3 separate regions of the Homo sapiens genome follow, and regions 2 and 3 are each linked to region 1. Evidence: fine-mapped expression QTL. A gene starts in region 1. Each other region holds a variant in brackets. All regions are shown on one strand. Distances are between the middles of the regions.

Evidence for each region. PIP is the estimated chance that this variant, and not a neighbour inherited with it, causes the effect.
Region 2: its variant is the best candidate, but not a certain one, in a credible set for the expression of RASSF4 in whole blood (TOPMed, PIP 0.80).
Region 3: its variant is the best candidate, but not a certain one, in a credible set for the expression of RASSF4 in whole blood (TOPMed, PIP 0.74).

What each region holds. Positions count from the first base shown.
Region 1 is chr10:44,956,797-44,963,197 of GRCh38, forward strand. It overlaps RASSF4 (Ras association domain family member 4), which reads left to right and starts at 3,006. Exons shown (of 11, transcript NM_032023.4): 1 at 3,006-3,070. TMEM72-AS1 (TMEM72 antisense RNA 1) reads right to left here and starts at 2,893. Exons shown (of 8, transcript NR_033842.1): 1 at 2,796-2,893. RefSeq lists an enhancer at 2,685-2,979 and a silencer at 2,757-2,976.
Region 2 is chr10:44,918,132-44,924,714 of GRCh38, forward strand. All of the region lies in intron 1 of TMEM72 (transmembrane protein 72), which reads left to right. TMEM72-AS1 (TMEM72 antisense RNA 1) reads right to left here. Exons shown (of 8, transcript NR_033842.1): 2 at 4,950-5,095. Among named protein-coding and RNA genes, the nearest start is that of TMEM72, 10 kb to the left of the region's middle. The variant AC/A (reference allele first, on the strand shown) is at 2,554.
Region 3 is chr10:44,936,539-44,942,828 of GRCh38, forward strand. TMEM72 (transmembrane protein 72) reads left to right here. Exons shown (of 5, transcript NM_001123376.3): 5 at 1-472. The region is part of intron 1 of TMEM72-AS1 (TMEM72 antisense RNA 1); the gene reads right to left. Among named protein-coding and RNA genes, the nearest start is that of TMEM72-AS1, 20 kb to the right of the region's middle. The variant C/G (reference allele first, on the strand shown) is at 1,898.

The sequences.
Region 1 (6,401 bases):
GAGTAGGCAGTGCAGGGTTGGTGCAGAAGCTCCATGATGTTAAGAAGGATCCAGACACCTTTGATCTTTATGCTCTGCCAGCCTCAGCATGCGGACATGTTGCTTTATGATCTCAACATGGCTGCCAGTGCTCCAGACATTACACATCATGTCCTCATTTGAGACAGGCAGGCAGGAGAGACATCTGTTCTTTCTACCAGAAAAGCAAAAGTTATCTTCACCATCCCTCAGATCTCTCCTCCCCCAGGACACCTTCCCCCATCTCTGCGTCCAGAAGTAGGTCGTATGGCCACTTCTAGCTTCACTGAAAAAAAGCTATGAAAAGGATTGTCAAGACTTAGACAGCTGTTTTGTTTTTTTTAACTGTAACCCACAGTAAGAAGCACACATAACTGAAACATAAACAATGCAAACAAAAAGTTCCACAAAACACAACTTATATTTACTATTTGTGCTGTACACTGGTATTTTCCCTTGCATTTTTGAAGTACTAGTCACATCATCAACTAAATTAATTTCATGACCCACTATTGGGTTGTAAGTAGAGTATGAAAAATACAAGTGGGCATGAGCCATAACTAGGGGCTGGCATGTTGCTGCTACAGACAAGTGGGTATTTCTCTCTCCTTTCCTTCCCTCCCTCCCTCTCTCTTTCCTCTCTTCCCCATTCCCTCTTTCCTCCCTCCCTCCTTCCTTCCCTCCTTTCCTTCCTTCCTTCCCTCCTTTCCTTCTTTCCTTCCTTCCTTCCGTCCTTCCTTCCTTCCTCCCTCCCTCTTTCCCTTTCTTCCTTCCTTCCTTCCTTTTTGTCCTTTTCCTTCTTTCCTATCTTTCTTTTTTCCAAAGAAGGAAATGGACATTGGCTGGCAACCAACAGTATCTGTAGCCTCCACCATAAGTGAGCTGGAGACCACACCCAGTTCTACTGAACCCTGAAAGAAAAGGTGACCCCTCCTTCTGAGGGGTCTGACAATGGACCCTCCCCTTCTGAGGGGAGGACGCTGACAATGGACACCTGTGTCTGATGTAAAATGCAAGCACTCACAGCCATAAAAGAGAATAAAATCGTGTCCTTTGCAGCAGGATGGATGTGGCTGGATGCCATTATCCTAAGCGAACTAATGCAGAAATAGAAAAGCAAACACCACATGTTCTCGCTTACAAGCAAAAGAGCTAAATATCGGGTTCACCTAGACATAAAGATAAAAACAATAGACACTGGGGACTTCAAAAGTGGGAGGGAGACAGCGGGGCGAGGGGTGAAAAACTTCCTATTGGGTACTATGCTCACCATCTGGGTGACAGGATCAATCCCAAACCTCAGTACCACACAATGTACAATTGTAACAAACCCGCACGTGTATCCCCTAAATTTAAAATAAAAATGGAAATTTTAAAAAATGCAAGCAGTAACACCAACTGCCCAGGAGTGCTGGGGGAATTGCATGGGATCCCCAATGTAAAGCACTAGCATAGTGTCTGAGCCCACAATGGGTGCACAGGACACATGGGGTTGCTGTCCCAAACCCAGTCCTCACTCAGAGCCAGTCATGGCCCTGTGAACAGCATTAATTAGGTCAGAGAGAATGATTCACACTCGAGTTCTGGAGAGCCCAGGGAAACTGTTATGTCACCCTGGTGCTATGTTTACTTCTCCTATCAGGAGTGATTAAATTCTTAGGATCTCATGCTCAGAGGTTGACAGTTATATTGAATTTTACCCACTTTTAAAAAACCTTTGGAAGCACCCGATTATTTGTCTCAGCTTTGATGAGGGCTGTGGAAGAGCAAATGTGTCATGACAAGTCACCAACCACAGGGAGCCTCAGAGCTGTCAAAGGATGGGCCATTCTCCAAAAATTCAAGCAAACGCAGAAACGGGAGGGCCCCTGGACTGGGTATCTTCAGTCCTGTCACTTTTTGCAGGTGGGGGTTCCAACATAAGTCATACAGCAGCCATACAAGCATTAGCACAGCCCCTCTAAGTCGAAGTTCAGGGACCCATGAGACTCAAATCCCAGGCTGATTTTGGTGCATATGGCCACCTGCACTTTCTAGAAGATCCATATCAGATTCTAAAATGGCCATGAGACCCTAAAAATATTAGGAAACGCACACTGAATGAAACTAAAATGATTTATGTTAGGGGTGGGAGAGAACAGGTCCAGAGGTCAGAGCTGGGAATCGTGAGGTAAAGCAGAAATTGCAAATGTTTTCCATCAACCCCATCCCCCACCTTGACACCCCCACACCCCAGAAACACTGAACTGTTCCCAGTTCCCCAAATGGCTTGTGGTTTTCTGTCCTCTCTGCCTCCGTGCTGGCAAATATTCGTCCAGGAGGCAGTGACTGGGAGAGAAAGACTAACTTCTTATTCACCAGATCGGATTTCTTAAACAATAAGGAGTTCTAAGAGGCCATGCCAAGCAAACGGCCAGACTGTACAAAGGTGCCCCTTGAGCAATAAATAGCAAATGCTCTGGGCTTTACTGATAAGCCTCCCCAGACTCCAAGCCCCACCAGGCATGCAGACAAGTGCCTGCAGTGATTGCAGCGCCTGCGCAGCGGCCCTTGTTGGAAGTCCAGGAGTCCGCGCTACCCCGCAAAGTCCCTGGCCGCTGCCCGCACACCGAACCTCTCGGGGCTGAGTCGGGCTGCTTTCTCCTCGCGTCCCGGGGCGCCCTCGGGAACTCGGGAGCGCGCGGCGAGCTGAACAATGGCCTGGGGACACCTGGCAGGTCGCAGGCCCCAAATCTTCCCCGCCGCCCCTAGGCCACCGCCCTGCACCCGGAACCTACCGGCGTTCCCAGAGCGGGGCGGACGGGGCGGTGCCATTGGCCGGTGCGGAGTGAGGGGCGTGCTCGGGGCGGGACGGAGAGACCGGGGCGGCACCTTTGGCCGTGCCGGGCGAGAGGCGGGGAGCGGGGCGGGGCGAGGGGCGAGGGGCGGGGCGAGGGGCGGGCCTGGCCCCGAGCAGCTGAAGCCTGGGGTCAGCAGGCGCTGCGGGCGCAGCTCCGGTGCAAGCGAGGACACGACACATGCAGTGGCTTCTGGACTGCGCGATGACTGGACGGTGAGTGATGAACGAGCAGGAGAGTGCTTGGGCGTCCATGGAGCATCCCCTCCGACCCAGGACTGCCACCAGGCAGGGACGCTGAAGCCTGGGCACTTGTGCCCTTCGGCCGCAGCGCGCAGGGTCCCTCCCCCGCCAGCCTGGCGCATTGCGGGCCTCGGGCTCATTGCTGAGAGGGGGCACTGCGCCTGGCACCTCTGTTAAGCAATTTAGGGGCTACAACCTGAGCAAGACAGATGAGCCCGGCCACTGGCTACACCTTTTTTGTTCACCTTGTCCTTAACCAGTTTCCTAGAAGCACTGATCCTAGAGTTGGGGAGAGAGCCTAGAGGCCTCTGGCACAACTCTGATTTCACTGATGGAAATCGAACGCCAAGATAATAGCAGCAGGGGGGGTCTGTCTCACAATCGCTGTCTGTAGAGGGCTCGCCTTGCTCTGGGCCAAGTGCTTTAACACGATATGCCTCTTACTCCTCACAGCAAGTGAGAGTCCTACTTTCGTTATCCCCTTTTCAGATGTGAAAACTGAGGCTTAAAGAGTTATAAAATTGTCCACCTTTACCGGATGAGTTGGTGATGGAGCCAGGATTTGAACCCAGGGCTTGTTGTGCCCCTGAGTCTCTTGCTCTTCACCCTTAGTCTCCGAAGGTCAGCCTGCCTGCTGCCCTGCTCTTCTGGGCTCCTGACTCCGGTCCCATCCTGCACTTCCCACTTCCAAAACATGCCTCAGTGTTTTCATTAACCTGGCACGGCGGAGGGAGGGAGGCCTCCTCTCACACCAGAATCAGTGCCCAGGCCAGGGCCAGCACTTTCTTAAAACACAGTAAGGACAGCTTCAGGAGCCCCATTTCACATAGGAATTAAATAAGGTCGCACAGCAAATAAGGGCTGGGCTTCTGGAATTTGAACCCAAGCAGGTTAGACTCCAAAGCTATGCTTTGCACTCACAGAGGAGCCCCTCGCTGGCTTTGCTGTAGTTTAACTGCCCACAGTACTAAGGTGTCAATCAGGATTTGTTGCCAGAAACCATTTTTTTTTAAGTTAGAAGTGAATTGGTGAAGTAACAGGTAAATGTAGACCATCCTGCCTTCTGTTCCTCTGTGTGGTTCCTTAGCTACTTCTGCCAGGACAGCAGGTTAGGGGAGAAGACAGGAAGGGAGAGGGTCAGAGGAGAAAGAGGAAGGGAGGGAAGAGGAGAGATGAAACTCATTAAACTTAGGTTAAAAAAATGCTGGCCGGAAATTGTCATGGGCTGTTTCAGCACTTTGTCAGTGTATGTGAAGGCTGTTGTCATTAGTTCTAGCCATAATTCTCTCAGTGTGTAGTGCTGGTGATTTGACAACAAAAAGGTTGATGCTACAGATTAAAGTGTCTGTCTGAAACTCAGGAGATTGGGTTGTATTTCCACCATGAAGCTCCAGTGGGTAGCCTGGAGGTCGAGAACAGAATCAAGGTCCAGGGTCGCCCTGGGTCAGGACCAAGTGGACCATGACAGATAACAAAGAACATGAACGAAACTTGGGTGTGTGTCAGAGTTCAGATTCTGGACGTGCAAAGCCTCAAAGGGGAGACCTAACTAGGGGATCTGCCAGAAAGCCCTCTGCCCTGGGCCCCTGGGGTCTGGGGCCTGGTTTCAGGTGTCAGCTCAGACTCTCTCCTCATTCATGGCCACTCCTGCAGGCAGGCCTCACATTCCCATCTCTGGGGCTCCACAGTCTCTCCAGAGCCCCCAACTCCCAGTGTCAATAAGAATAGTAATGGGAGCCTCTTTTCATTATGGGTGAGCCCAACACAAGGCCCATCTTACAGGTCTCCTCATTCGTCTTCACAGAAGTCATCGAGGATTATAGTTATTTAATTGATGAGGAGCCCAAGGTTCAGAGAGGGAACTGGACTTGCTTAAGGTAACAGAGCCAGGCAGTCACAGAGCAGAGCTTTAAACCCAGAGCCTTGCAAAGGCTAGGTGGTTATTCTCTCACAGAGTATGTTTGGGGAAATTGTTTTAAAATAAAGAAAATCAAATAAGAAGTGGCTGCACTTCCTAAAGCTTCAACAGTTTTCTTATTTTTGTAAAAGAGAAACTTGTAGTTCCCGGGGTCTCCTTTTCTGGCTGTCCCACCTTCTGCCCTAGGATATACTGTTGAGGAAGAGGCCCGGAACCCCCTCCCTTTGCCCTGCCTGACCTTGGGAAGCAGGGGTGGGGTGTCATTGAGCCCCATAGCTGCAGTGCTGGGAAGAGCCCTGAAGACTCTCTATCAGCTGCCACAACAGCTCTGGCTAAACTGATGCCCAAGAGACGGCGCAACACGCTAGGATCACAGGCCAAGTTAATGCCACAGCAAAACTCACATGCAAGGCTCTACAACGTTCCTCTGCCTCCTCTTTCTTGCTGTGACAGGTTTCAGCAGAGATTCTAAACCTAAGATCTGGGGATCTGGGAGTACATGGACAAGAGCTGTCTCATCTCCCTGCAGTGATATGCAAATTGTGTGTGTGTTTGCACGTGGATGCAGATTGCAACAACATGCACATACATGCATTTTCTGGGGAGAGTGCACTAAGCTTTCAAGAGACTCCAAAGGACTCTATGACCCAAAAGATTCTGGGACCCTTTTGTCTCACAGGGCCCTTATGTCCCCAGCAGTGACATGTGGCACACAGGCCTGGGGCAGTGGACAGCACAGGTGAGGGCAGCCGTAGAGAGCCTCCAGAGCAGCCCTGCAGCAGCAGGCACCCAGAGGGGTCTGCCCCTCTGCATTGCACTCCCAGCCCCAGGCAATCGGGATATTGGACAGTGCCCATTTTGAGCACGTTTGGCCCGAAAACCATAGCTAAGAAGATCTTTGTTTCTGTGGATCTTCTCTTCCATAGGCTAGAGGTGAGCCTGGTTGGTGGGGAAGTTGAGGAGTGGTTCAGGGGGTTCCAGGAGCAGAGAATGTATGTTTAAGGTGTAAGGGGGGAGCAGGAGGACTGGAAATGGTTTTCTTGTCCCAAATTGCTTTGCCTTGAAACAAGGGCAGAAGCCAGAAGTCTTGCCCACTGGGAAGGCTGGTCTGCGATCTACATGGCTGCTCAGGGCCAGGCTCTCAGAGGAAGGGGAGCTGTATCAGGGAGGCCTGGATGCTGGACTGGACTCAGAGAGACCTGTCAGTGAGAGGCCAGAACCGCAGCGGGGAGTAAAGGTGAGCTGGGCCTGTGTGGTCAGTCCAGGGCAAGGCGGGAGTGGAGGTGGAGGGGAGCTCTGTGCCCGCCTCTCCTGGACTCCCCTGGTCTCCATCACCTCCACCTGGACAGTGCAGAGTCTTCTGGGGCAGGGAGGAGTGAGTTGAGC
Region 2 (6,583 bases), 39 kb before region 1:
TTTATTGACTATCACGAGAACAACACGTGAAAAACTTGCCCCCCTGATTCAATTACCTCCTGCTGGTCCCTCCCACAACAGGTGGGAATTCAAAATGAGATCTGGGTGGGAACACAGCCAAACCATACCAGGGTACTTACAAGGGAGATGCTATTCTACGTGGGAGACACTATCCTCAGTAGTGCCAATGAACCATATGGGTCTGCAGAGTCCTTCCTCATCACCAAAGAGTGGGGTATCAGCACAGATGGCCTCACAGGTGAATTCTACCAACACTTAAGGAAGAAATATCTATTCCACACAAACTCTTCCAGAAATTTGAAAGGAGGCAATACTTCTCAACTCATTCTATAAAATTAGTATTTATGTGGATACCAAAACCAAAGATATTACAAGAAAACTATAGACTAATATTCTTCTCAATATAGATGCAAAAATTCTAAGCAAAGTTTTAACAAATACAAATATATTGAAAGAATGATATATCATAATCAAGTGGAGTTCATCTCAGAAATGCAAGGTTGTTTTAATATTTGAAAAATCAATTAATGTAACTTACCATGTGTTATGGACTAAATGTTTGTGTCCCCCCAGCCAAATTCATATGTGGAAATCCTAACACCCAACATGATTGTATTAGGAGGTAGGGCCTTCTCTGAATGGAAATAATGCCCTTATAAAAGAGACCTGAGAGAGCTCCCTAGGCCCTTCTATCATACAATGTGCGGTAACAGTGAGAAGACAGTTTTCTATAAGGAAGGGGTCCCTCAGATACCAAATCTGCCAGCATCTTGATCTTGCATTTCCCAGCCTCCAGCACTGTAGGAAATAAATTTCTGTTGTCTATAAGGTACCCAGTATATGGGATTTGGTTATAGCAGCCGAAATGGACTAAGACATCATATTTAAAAACTAAAAAAGAAAAACCATATTATCATCTAAATAGACACAAAGTTTTAAACGAAATCCAACATTCTTTTATGATTAAAATAAAACTATCATCAGCAAACTAGTAACAGAAGGAAACTCCCTCAACCTTAAGAGGTCATTACAGAAAACATACATCTACTTAAATGTAAAAGACCAGGTGCTTCCTCCTAAGATTAGGAACAAGGCAAGGGTGTCCACTCTACCACGTCCAGTCAGCATTGTACTGGAGGTTCTAGCCAGTGCAAGAAACAGAAACAAAATGCATACAGATTGTCCAGGAAAAAGAAAAATTTTATTCACAGATGACGTTATCATCTGTAGAAAATCTAATAGAATCTACCCCAAAAGCTACTTGAGCTAATGGAGGGAATGGCAACATTGCAGAAGACAAGCTTAATATATAATAATCAACTGTATTTCCATACATTAGCAACAAACAATTAGAAAATGAAATCTTTAAAAATACAAATTATAATAGCATTGAAAATCCGAAATATTTAGGGATAAATCTGACAAAAGATGTAAAACAAACTACACTAGAAACTAGAAAACATTGCTGAGAGATAACAAAGAAAATCTAAATGAATGGAGATGCATCTTGTTGATGGGTCAGAAGGCTCAATATCGTTAAGACATCAGTTCTCCCCCAAATTGCTATACAGTTTCAATAGGAGCTCAATCTGAAGTCTCTTCCAACTGAATGTCCAGAAATATCTGCCATGAAATCCTTCCCTTTTCCCACACTGTCTCTGAACCCTGGCTCATGTATATCAGCTGAACTGATCTCCACACGTAGGTAAACCTCCCCACCATGCTTACTGTTTGCCACAACTTCTGAGCTAAGAAGCCTGTGGCTACTACCTTACTGTCCCAGTGAATTCACAGCAACTGTTTCCAGCAACTCCATAGTCTTGGAAATGGTACAAATCTAGCTTTTCACCTCTACCCTGGCGGTGACCACCTCTCCTGGACCATCCACGCCCATTGTCATCAGCCTGGAGCGTCTTTCCCTGAGGTGTCTTTGGACACCCTGAGTCCAGCAGGAGATGAGAATGAAAAGAAGCAATAAATATACGCGGTGGGTTCGGAGGCTGCCCTCAGCAACAGTGAGTACAAAATTCTCATCCAATGCCCAGGGCATCCAGTGCCAAGGTTAGTGTGGCCTCTGATGACTGTGAAGCGTCCCATGTTACCACCAAGGGCATCACAATAAATGCAAGACATATGTCACAATTCAACCCATGGAGTCAGAACGGATAAGCAACAGTGGATCATGAGGTCAGCCCTATGGCAAAAGCAGCAGCAGCCTGAGGCCAGGGGAATATCCCCTCAGTAGGCAGCCCCGCAGATGGCCCCAGCCTCAGGAACATGCTGGCCTGAGCCCCGTGGGGACCCTAGCAGGGTTATGGAGGGCTAATACAAGAGATGTGGAGATAGATGGGAGTTTGGGTCACTTATATCCCAACTGGGCTTTGAGAAGGGACCTCAAAGTAAATTAGTGAACAACAAGCAACACTGGTGCACAGGGAACAGCTTTTTGGCCACAAAAAAACCCACAAGTGTGTTAATGGGAGCAAAGGATGAGAATAAACCCTCTCCTTCCACTGGAGAATACTGATGGGA[AC/A]CGCCTGCCTCTTATAATAGCTTTCCTAGCCATCGTCTGCATTTGTGCAGCACTCTCATTTACTTAGACTGAGCAGTGGTCGGCACCATTTTGCATGTTTTTATTTTCCCCATTTTCCAGAATAAGATGCAGACCAAAGAGTTAATCACTTTCCTGAGGATGCAGGACTCAGCTTTTCTGATGCAGGCCCCATATTCTTTCTGCTCTGGTGCAGCCCCCTCCTAGCTTTCGTCAACCCATGCTGAGACCAGAGCTCCAGGATGAGAAGGATACTCACACAGTGGCTGCCCTGCCCAGGGCTGTACCACAGGCTCTTGGCCCAGGATCTCTGATCTCTGCTAAGCCTGAACTACAACAAACAGCTCAGGAAAGCAACACAGAAGCAAGCCCTGGACCCTGAGAGAAGAAAGTTCTTGTACCAAGGTTGGATCTGGCCCACACAGGAGGGACAGAGACTGGAGGGAAGGAGCTAACAAGATGAGAGAGGCCAGGCTTGTCCATGAATGGCTCCATCAAGGTGCGATGCAAGGCACCTCCTGGGATCATGCAGGGAGTGAGACAGAGGCGTGGGGTGAGCTGTGCTGGAGTGGGCATAAGGTACCTCTGTTGGGCTGGGGTGAGAGTAGCTGGGGAGCCTGAGGTGGGATAATAGGGAGGGATGGAAGGAGTCAAAGGCCACTAATGGCCGTGTCAAGCAGTGCTGTTCAGTGTTCCCTTGCCCCTCCACCTGGGCAGGAAAGACAGCACAGCCGGACTGAAGCACATCTCAGGGCGATTATTTCTTGTAGAGAATTTGGTGTCATGAGGCTCTGATTCTGCGGGTAGCAGGGCCTTTGTCCCATTGTTTGTCTCCATTGATTGGCTCCTGATCATTGATCAGCTAATCCAAAAATCAGCTCTTCAGTCCCTGGTCCCAGCTCAGGGTAATGCCCTGGGGGTATCTGTTCCAGTGAGTTGCTGATTCAGGCCAACCACTTCCACACTGGACTAGCACCCTGTGAAGGCAGAGCTTCCAAGACACCAGCCCCACTGCCCTGTGAGAAGTATGGAAGGCCAGAGCGCAGGCTAAATTCCAAGAGGAGCTAGAAGCCCTCAGACTCTGGGCCTCCCAAATCTCTAGATGCCAGGGCCAGAGCTACCACTCTCAGGGCCCACGAAGGGCCTACACTGCGCCTGAGGGAGGGAGTACCACCTTGGGCTTAGACTGAAGGCCACATTAAATTACAATGAGGGCCCCCTTAATTTTAAGAGGAGCACCTCCTTCATTGTAGAACACCTCCTTAATTTAATGGCAAATATCTTCTTAGTCTTAGGGAGAACACCTCCTTAATGAATGAGCACCTCTGTAATTTTAGGAGGTGTGCCTCCCTAATTTTGAGCCCTGGTGTCCTTCTGGGCCCACTCTGCTCCTAGTTATCCGGGTGCCATAACTTCTTTGTGTTTAACAGAGAGCCCCGCCTAAATCTGAAACCTGGCAGAAACCTAAGGTCCAATTCCACAAAACAAGGAGTGGGCTGTCCTCATCCACAGGTTGAAGTGAGGCCTTTGAGAGGGCGGGGGCCCACCTGTGCAGTCTCCGGGAACAGACGCTCAGCAGACTGGAGAGGAGCTCCTTCTTACCTGTGACAATCCCATTCTTCATTCAAGCCCCCACTAAATTTCAGGCCACACTTCATGTTCACCTCCTGCCAATTCTGGAGAACAGTCCCCTGGAAAAAAAACTTTTGGGAAACTCCAGGCCCTGTGTGAAAACACTTTGGGGTCCTATATCTATGTCATGTGGAACTGTGATACCTTCCAAAAATATTTTGTTCCCAGTACAGTCCAGTTAGCACACCAGGCTAGGAGCTTCCACAGCCAGTCCCAACATGGCTCTCTGGGGTGAGTGTTGGATACGGTTCACAAAATTCCTGCAGCAAGGAATCTCACTTCTTGCTTTCTTTACTTTTTCTACTGGGAATGTTTGCAAAATGCAACTGTGGGAGGGACCTGCTTTGGATGATACAGGATTCTCCTCCACAGATCCTCTATGAAGTCTTAAGTTATAAAACCACCAATAGGATTCCATGACCCAGTGGAAGTCCCCAGACACCATCTGTATTCCTAGGAGCCTGAATCTCCAAGGCTATGGGGCAGGTGCTGCAGGACCCAGAAATGCTTACTCCTGAGGAGTCACAATATAATGTTTACTCTAAGGCGTCAGGCCAGACACAGAGACTTCTATGCCAAAAACCTCAGGTGGCTAGATGACTGAATTAGCTGCTTTTCCAGTTAACCTTGCATGGCTGCATAACAGCCCACTCTAAAACGTAGTGATGTAAGGCTACAATCATTTGATTATACTCAAAACTTTGTGATTCGGAAATTCTGGCAGAACTCAGTGGAGGCGGCTCACCTCTACTCCATGATAACTGGGGCCACAGATGGGGTCACAGGTAGGGTGGCTGGCATGGCTCACGTGGCTGAGGTGGCTCATCTGGTGCTTTGGTTCTGATTGTTGTCTGGGTCCATCACTTCCAGTCTATGTCACATCTGCTGGAGCTGGAATGTCAAAGATAACTTCTTCCATCATTTGTCCTGTGCAATGCTGAACCAGCTGGGGCTGTTGTGCCTCTCTCTCTCTCTCTTTTTCTCTCTCTCTCTCTCTCTCTCTTTCTCTTCCTTTCTCTCTTTCTCTCTCTCACTCTCATTTCTCCCTCTCACTCTTATTTCTCCCTCTCTCTTTTTACAAGTCTCTCTACAAGGCTGGCTTGGGCTTCCTCACAATATGTCGGTCTCACTCCTCAGGGATTAGCAGGTGTGTCTTCACAGCAAAACCATTCTTAGCCAATTTTCCTGAGAGATGGCAGCCAGCACATCGCTGAGAAAACTGGGAGACCTTAGAGTTGGCAGTTCCCACTTGGGAGATGTGCAGAGGAAACAAGACGTATGGAGAGGGCCTACTGTCTACATGGCGTGTGGTGGCACCTGAGTGAGGGGCAACAGGGCTGACATGCCCAGGAAGCTTCCAATCCCAGACACCTCCTGGCCAGCCCACACCTCTGCCCCCCTACTGCCCAGATAAAGTCCAAACATCAACATGCAATGGCAGGGCATGCCTTCTGCTTTATGCCTGGGAAGCCTCCTTCTCTGGGTCCCCAGACAGAACAGACCCTCCACTCTTCTGGGCCTCTATGCCAAGCGCCCTGCTGTGCCACTGGACAGTAAAGCCACCTGCACCACACCACCAGGAGCCACAGCCAGAACTGTGCTTCAAGCCCAAGTCAACAAAGAAACTAGCAGATACCCTGTGCTGGGAGAGGGAGTGGCCAGGAGCACCTGGAGCTGGTCTCTGTCCCTCAGCCACCACCAAATATCACTGAAGTCTCTCACCATCTGCACGGGGTCAGGGAGCTTTCTGAAATACCAATCTAAACACGAGTCCCTTCTGCTCACGCTGCAGAGCCCAATATTTAAGAACCCCACAGTCGCCTTGATCCACATGCACTGCCCATTGCCCCCGACTGTGCCCCTGCTTCTGCTGTTAGGGGCCCCCACACCCTGCAGTGCCTGGCCCCTCCATCTGCACAGGTCTATTCCTGCTGCTTTCCTAGTCCACTCTACCTTCATCGTTATTCATCTTCCCTGATAGTCCCACGAGTGGCCCCTCCTGTCTGGCCCCAGAGCTCCTGGGTGAGTCCCTCGTCCAGCTTGGGTTACTGCCCTCGCTGAATGCACTTTTCTCAGTCCACATCACATCTCTCCTGCTGGACTAAGCATACCACAGCCATGAGCCCAGTGCCTGGCCCAACCGGTAACCACAGAAGACCAGGTGGGCCTCGGAGAAGCGGCCAGGAGCCGCCCCCCAAGGAGGGTGGGCCTGCCGCTCCCAGCAGAGCTGCCTGAACATTGAGACCAGAGGCAAACAGAGCAGGGGACAGAGGAGGGACTCGGTGCGAGTCCGTGTTGTTTCAACCTGGCATGCTCTGCATCCAGGAACACGAACCCCAAAAGTGGGAGGACTGAGCAGAAAGCGGTGACCCGTTGGCC
Region 3 (6,290 bases), 20 kb before region 1:
CAGGTCTCACCAAATGACAAATGGCTAATCAAGACACTCCTGCAAGCCCTTGATGGTGAGAGCTGCAGAGCTGTTTCTTCAGCTGCCATCAAGGCAGGACCTCAGGACCTGACTGTCTACAGTCAGGGAATAGTGAACAATATGGGATATGGGTATAGGTAGGTGGTAGACAAGGATCGTGCCCCATGGCTGATGGGCCGGGTGTCTCAGGCAGGCCCCCTGTGCACAGAAAGAGCCTAAGTGCAGAGAAGCCAGGCATCTTTCCCCTGTCAACTGTGGAAGGGGAATGTGATGGCCACAGACACCCTCATGGCACAGACATGGCCAGCCTCTGACGTTCCTCTGCATCAGAGTAGTTCTGTCCTCGAAGCCCCAGTCAGCAGAGCTGGATGACCAGATCGCAAGAAGCAAACCAGAAAGTGTGATGGCAGAGATGTCAGATCCCGTTTAATAAACACTTCAGTAAACCCAAGTGTGGAGTGTTGTTTTGGGTGTGTTTTAGAGATGTGTGTTGGGAGCACCCTTTTGGAGGTGTCTTAGTGTGTGCCGGGAGTTCCAGTGATGATGCGATGGAATTCTGAGGCACATAGGCTTCCTGGAGATTGTCATCAGTTAAGAGAGTGTCTGCTGGTGTGCAGCATTACAGGACAATTATGATCTTACCTAGGTTAGTAAAGTTCTCAAACACTCTTATGGCTACAAAACAAAAACAAAAAGCTGGAGTGAGATCATTAAATAGGCCAGAATTCTCACCCATCAGTGGACCAAGCAAGAAAGTGGCATCTTCCTCATAAGCAGATGAGCACCACGTGTCTCCATTGATTCTCAGCCTGTGACCTCTATGACCACATCCTTGTCCAGAAGAATCCCTGCAAAGCAGATGTTGTAATGATCTGCATCCTTGCCAAGAAGCAAAGACTAGAAGGACTGGCCCTGCCATGATCCCCCTCCCTACCTCAGCAGAGAGGGGAGCATTTTGTATATGAAGAACAGAGTGACAGGAAGAAGAAAGAGCACCAGGCTGAGCACCATTCGACCTCCACTAATACACGTCTGACCTTGTTCAAGCCCCTTCGCATCTCTGGCTCAGGTTCCCCTATTAAGTGCAAATCACAGCAGTAACTCAACAAGACATGGGCAAGTGCTTTTCAGAACTACAAACAAGTCACTGTGATTGCACTACATCCCTATCCCTACGGGGGACTCGCCGTGAGGGGGCACTGAGGAAGCACCACCCTGACTTGCGTCTGTGGCAAGGCCAGTTCAGGTCCAAGAGCTCCTGTCTCCACTCCAGGTTCCAGGGCTAGAGCCTGGGGAGGGTACAGCCCCCAATGCCTACCTCAGAGGAAAGTCATAGTGGACCCCACATTTCCTAGCAGCTGCACCCTGGGGGTCACACCGTGGGTCCTCTGTCTCCCTCTCCCATCAGCCCTAAGGTGGTTTTTTGTTGTTAGTTTTCTGAAATATCTTTATTGAGATATAATTCATATAACATAAAATTCACCAATTTAAAGTGTACAGCTAGGCCAGGCACAGTGGCTCATGCCTGTAATCCAAGCACTTTGGGAGTCCAAGGCGAGTGGATCACTTGAGCCCAGGAATTTGAGACCAGCCTGGGCAACATAGCAAAACCCTGTTCCTACCAAAAGTACAAAAAATTAGCCAGGCATGGTGGCACACACGTATAGTTCCAGCTACTCAAGAGGCAAAGATGGAAGAATGGTTTGAGCCCAGGAGGTCAAGGCTGCAGTGAGCTGAGATCATTCCACTGCACTCCAGCCTGGGCAACTGAGTGAGACCCTGTCTCAAAATAATCTTTAAAAAATTTTTAAATTAAAAAAAAGTGTACAGCTAAACAGTTTCTAGTAGATTTTTTTTTTTTAATACATGGAGTCTC[C/G]TTTTGTCACCAGGCTGGAGTGCAGTGGTGTGATCTTGGCTCACTGCATCCTCTGCCCCCAGGGTTCAAGCGATGCTCCTGCCTCAGCCTCCTGAGTAGCTGGGACTACAGGCGTGCACCACCATGCCCAGCCATTTTTGTATTTTTAGTAGAGACAGGTTTCACTATCTCGGCCAGGATGGCCTTGATCTCTTGACTTCATGATCCACCTGCCTCAGCCTCCCAAAGTGCTGGGATTATAGGCGTGAGCCACCATGCCAGGCCTCTAGTAGATTCTCAAACTATGTTCATCACAATGTAAATTCACAACATTTTCATCATCCCCCAAAGCAAACACAACCTAGCACCCGTTCGCACTCACTCCCTACCTCCCATCACCTGCCCTAAGCAACCACTAATCTACTTTCTGTCGTATAAATTGAATCATATAATACTGGTTTTTTTGTGACTTTGTTCACTTAGCGTGATATTTCTGAGGTTCATCCATGTCGTAGCATGTATCTTTATTTTATTTCTTCTCATGGCTGAATAATACTCCATTGTATGGATATACTACCTTCTGTTTATCCGTTCGTCTGTTAACGGACACTGGGGTTGTTCCCACTTTGTCCCTATAAAGAATAACGCTGCTATGAACACTCGCGTACATGTTTTTGCATGAACATCTGCTTTCATTTCTCTTGGGTATAAATCTAGGAGTGGAATTGCTGAGTCATATGGTAACTCTGTGTTTAACTTCTTGAGGAAATGCCAAACTGTTTTCTAGAGGGGCTGCGCCATTTTACTTTCCCACCAGCAGTGTATGAGGGTTCTGATTTCTCCACCTCCTTGCCAATACTTGTCATTGTCTTTTTTTATTATAGTCATACATGCACTGTGGCTTTGTAGTTCCTTAATGACCAATGGTGTTGAGCTTCTTTCATGTAATTACTGGCCTTTGAATATCTTTTTTAAGAAGTGTCTACTCAAATGCTTTGCCTGTTTTTTAATTGGGTTATTATTTGTCTTTGTATTTTGAGTTGTAAGAGTTTTTAATGTACTCTGAATACTATACCCTTTCAGATATATGATTGGCAAATATTTTCATCCATTCTGTAGGTTGTCTTTTTAATTTCTTTTTTTTTTTTTTTTTTTTTTGAGACTGGGTCTCACTCTGTCACCCAGACTGGAGTGCAGTGGTGCGATCTCAGCTCACTGCAACCTCCACCTCCCAGGCTCAAGTGATTCTCCTGCCTCATCCTCCCGATTAGCTGGGATTATAGGCGCATGCCACTACTGCCTGGTTATTTTTGTGTTTTTAGTAGAGATGGGGTTTCACCATGTTGGCCAGGCTGGTCTTGAACTCCTGACTTCAAATGATCCACCCCCTTCGACCTCCCAAAGTGCTGAGATTACAGGCGTGAGCCACTGCGCCGGCTTTTTTTACTTTCTTGATAGTGTCCTTTGAGGAAGAAACAATTTAATTTCAGTGAAATTCAATTTTTCTTTTTTTCTTTGTTGTTTATTCTTTTGTGGTCAAATCTGAGAAACTATTGCCTAACCAAAGGTTATGAAGATTTATTTCTATATTTTCTTCTAAGACTTTTATAGTTTTAGTTCTTACATTTAGATCTATGATCAATTTTGAGATAATTATTGTATGTGGTATGAAATGGAATCTAACTTAATTATTTTACATGTGAATATACAATTGTTACAGCACTATTTGTTGACTTGAACTGTCTCGACCTCTTTGTTAAACATTAATAGACTGTAAATGAAAGGGTTTATTTCTGAACTTGCAACTCCAGCCTGTTGATCTGTATGTCTATCCTGATGCCATTGCCACACCATGTATTACTGTAGCTTTGTGGTAAGTTTCGAAACCAGGAAGTCTGAGCCCCCTCCAAGTTTGTTCTTATTTTTCAAAACAGTTTTGGCTATTCAGGGTCCCTTGCACTTCTACATGAATTTTAGGATCAGCTTGTCAACTTCTGCAAAATAGAAAGCTGGGATTTTCATAGGGATTTCTCTGACTCTGTAGATAAATTTGGGGAGTATTCCATTCCATCTGAACAATATTAAATCTTCTGATCCATGAATGTGGGGTGTCCTTCCATGTATTTAGATCTTTAATTTTTTCAACGTTTTGTAGTTTCCAATGTGCAAGTCTCACACTTCTTTTCTTAAAATTATTCCTAAGTATTTTCTTCTTTTCCTTGCTTTTGTGATTGGGATTGTTTTCTTAATTTCATTTTCAGATGCTAGAATGTAGAAATATGATTGGTTTTGTACATGGATTTTGCATTTTGCAAACTTGCTAAACAAATTTATTAGTTACAGTCTTTTTGTTTTGTATTTTGTTTTTGAGACAGGGTCTTTATCTGTTGCCCAGGCTGAGTGCAGTGGCACAATCACGGCTCACTACTGCCTGGAGCTCCCAGGCTCAAACAATCCTCCTACCTTAGCCTGAAAAGTAGCTGGGACTATAGGTGCACACCACCACACCTAATTTGTTACTTTTGATAGAGACAGGGACTCACTATGTTACCCAGGCTGATCTCAAACTCCTGGACTCAAGCAGTCCTCCTGCCTCAGCCTCCCAAAGTGCCAGGATTACAGGAGTGAGCCACCGTGCAGGATTATACAATCTTTTTTTAATGGATACATTGTTATTATCTACATACAATATCATGTCATCTGCAAATATAGAAAGTTTTACTTCTTCCAATTTGGAAGTCTTTTCTTTTTCTTGCCTAATTTCTCTAGCTAGAACATCTAGTACAATGTTGAATAGAAGCAACAAGAGCCAACATTCTTGTCTTGCTCCTGATGGTTGGGGAAAGTATTTCGTCTTTCACCACTGAGTACCATGTTCCTGGTGGATTTTTCACAGATGCCCTGTGTGAGATTGAGGACATTTCCTTCTACTTCCAGTTTGTTGAGTGTTTTTATCATGAAATGGTACTAGATTTTTCGCATGGTCTTTCTGCATCTATTGAATTGATTATGTGGTTTTTGTCCTTTATTGATAAGGTTCATTACATTAATTAACTTTCAGATATTTAATCAACCTTGTATTCATGTAATGCATCCCACTTGCTCATGGTATGTAATCCTTTTACATGGTGCTGGGTTATATTTTATATGTTGATATATTTTGTTGAGGATTTTTGTGTTTCTCTATATAAGGAATACTGGTCTGTAGTTTCTATTCTTGTGATGTCTTTGTCTTATTTTGGAATCAGGGCAATACTGCTCTCATAAAATCAAGAAGTGTCCCCTTCTATTTTTTGAGAGTTTGTGAGAGACTGATATCGATTTTTTGTTGTATTTTGGTAGAATTCACCGGTGAGGCCATTTGGGCCTTGGCCTAATTCAAACTCTTCACTTGATATAGAGCTTCAGATTTTTTGAAAATTTCACCTTTGAATCGGTTTCTATAGTTTGTGTCTTCCTAGAGTTTTGTCCATTTTATCTAAGTTATCTAATTTGTTGGCATAGTATTCCTTTGTAATCTCTCTTATTTCCATAAAATCGATAATTATGCCCCCTCTTTTTATTCCCCATTTTAGTAATTTAAGCCTTCTCTTTTTTCTTGGTCAATCTAGCTAAAATTTTGTCCATTTTCTCAATATTTTCAAAGAAACCACTTGCTTTTATTGATTTTCTGTTTTGTTGTTACAGTCTGTATTTCATTATTTCTTTTCTAATATTTATTTTTTCCTTTCTTCTGCTTACTTTGCACTTAGTTTACTCTTATTTTTCTAGTTTCTTGAGGTGGAAAGTAGGGTTATTGGTATGAAATATGTTTGGGTTTTGTTTGGTTTTGTTTTTTGTTTTGGTTTTTTTTTGAGATGGAGTTTCACTCTTGTTGCCCAGACTAGAGTGCAATGGCGCGACCTCAGTTCATTGCAATCTCTGCCTCCCAGGTTCAAGCAATTCTCCTGCCTCAGCCTCCTGAGTAGCTGGGATTACAGGTGTGTGCCACCACACCCAGCTAATTTTTATTATTAGTAGAGACAGGGTTTCACCATGTTGGCCAGGCTGGTCTCAAACTCCTGACTGTGGTGATCCACCTGCTTTGGCCTCCCAAAGTGCTGGAATTACAGGCGTGAGCCACCGTGTCTGGCCATGTATTTGTTAATATAGACATTTACAGCTATAAATTTCAGAGCACTGCTGTGACTGCATTTCATATGTTTTGGTATATGCTGTGTTTTTGTTTTCATTCATCTCAAAGTATTTTCTAGTTTACCTTGTGACTTCTTCTTTTGATCTGTTGGTTATTTATGAGTGTGTTATTTAATTTATACCTATTCTAACTCAATTCCATTGTGGTTGGCAAACCCATTTGGTATGATTTCAATTCCTTTAAATGCATTGGATTTGTATTATGGCCTACCATACTGTC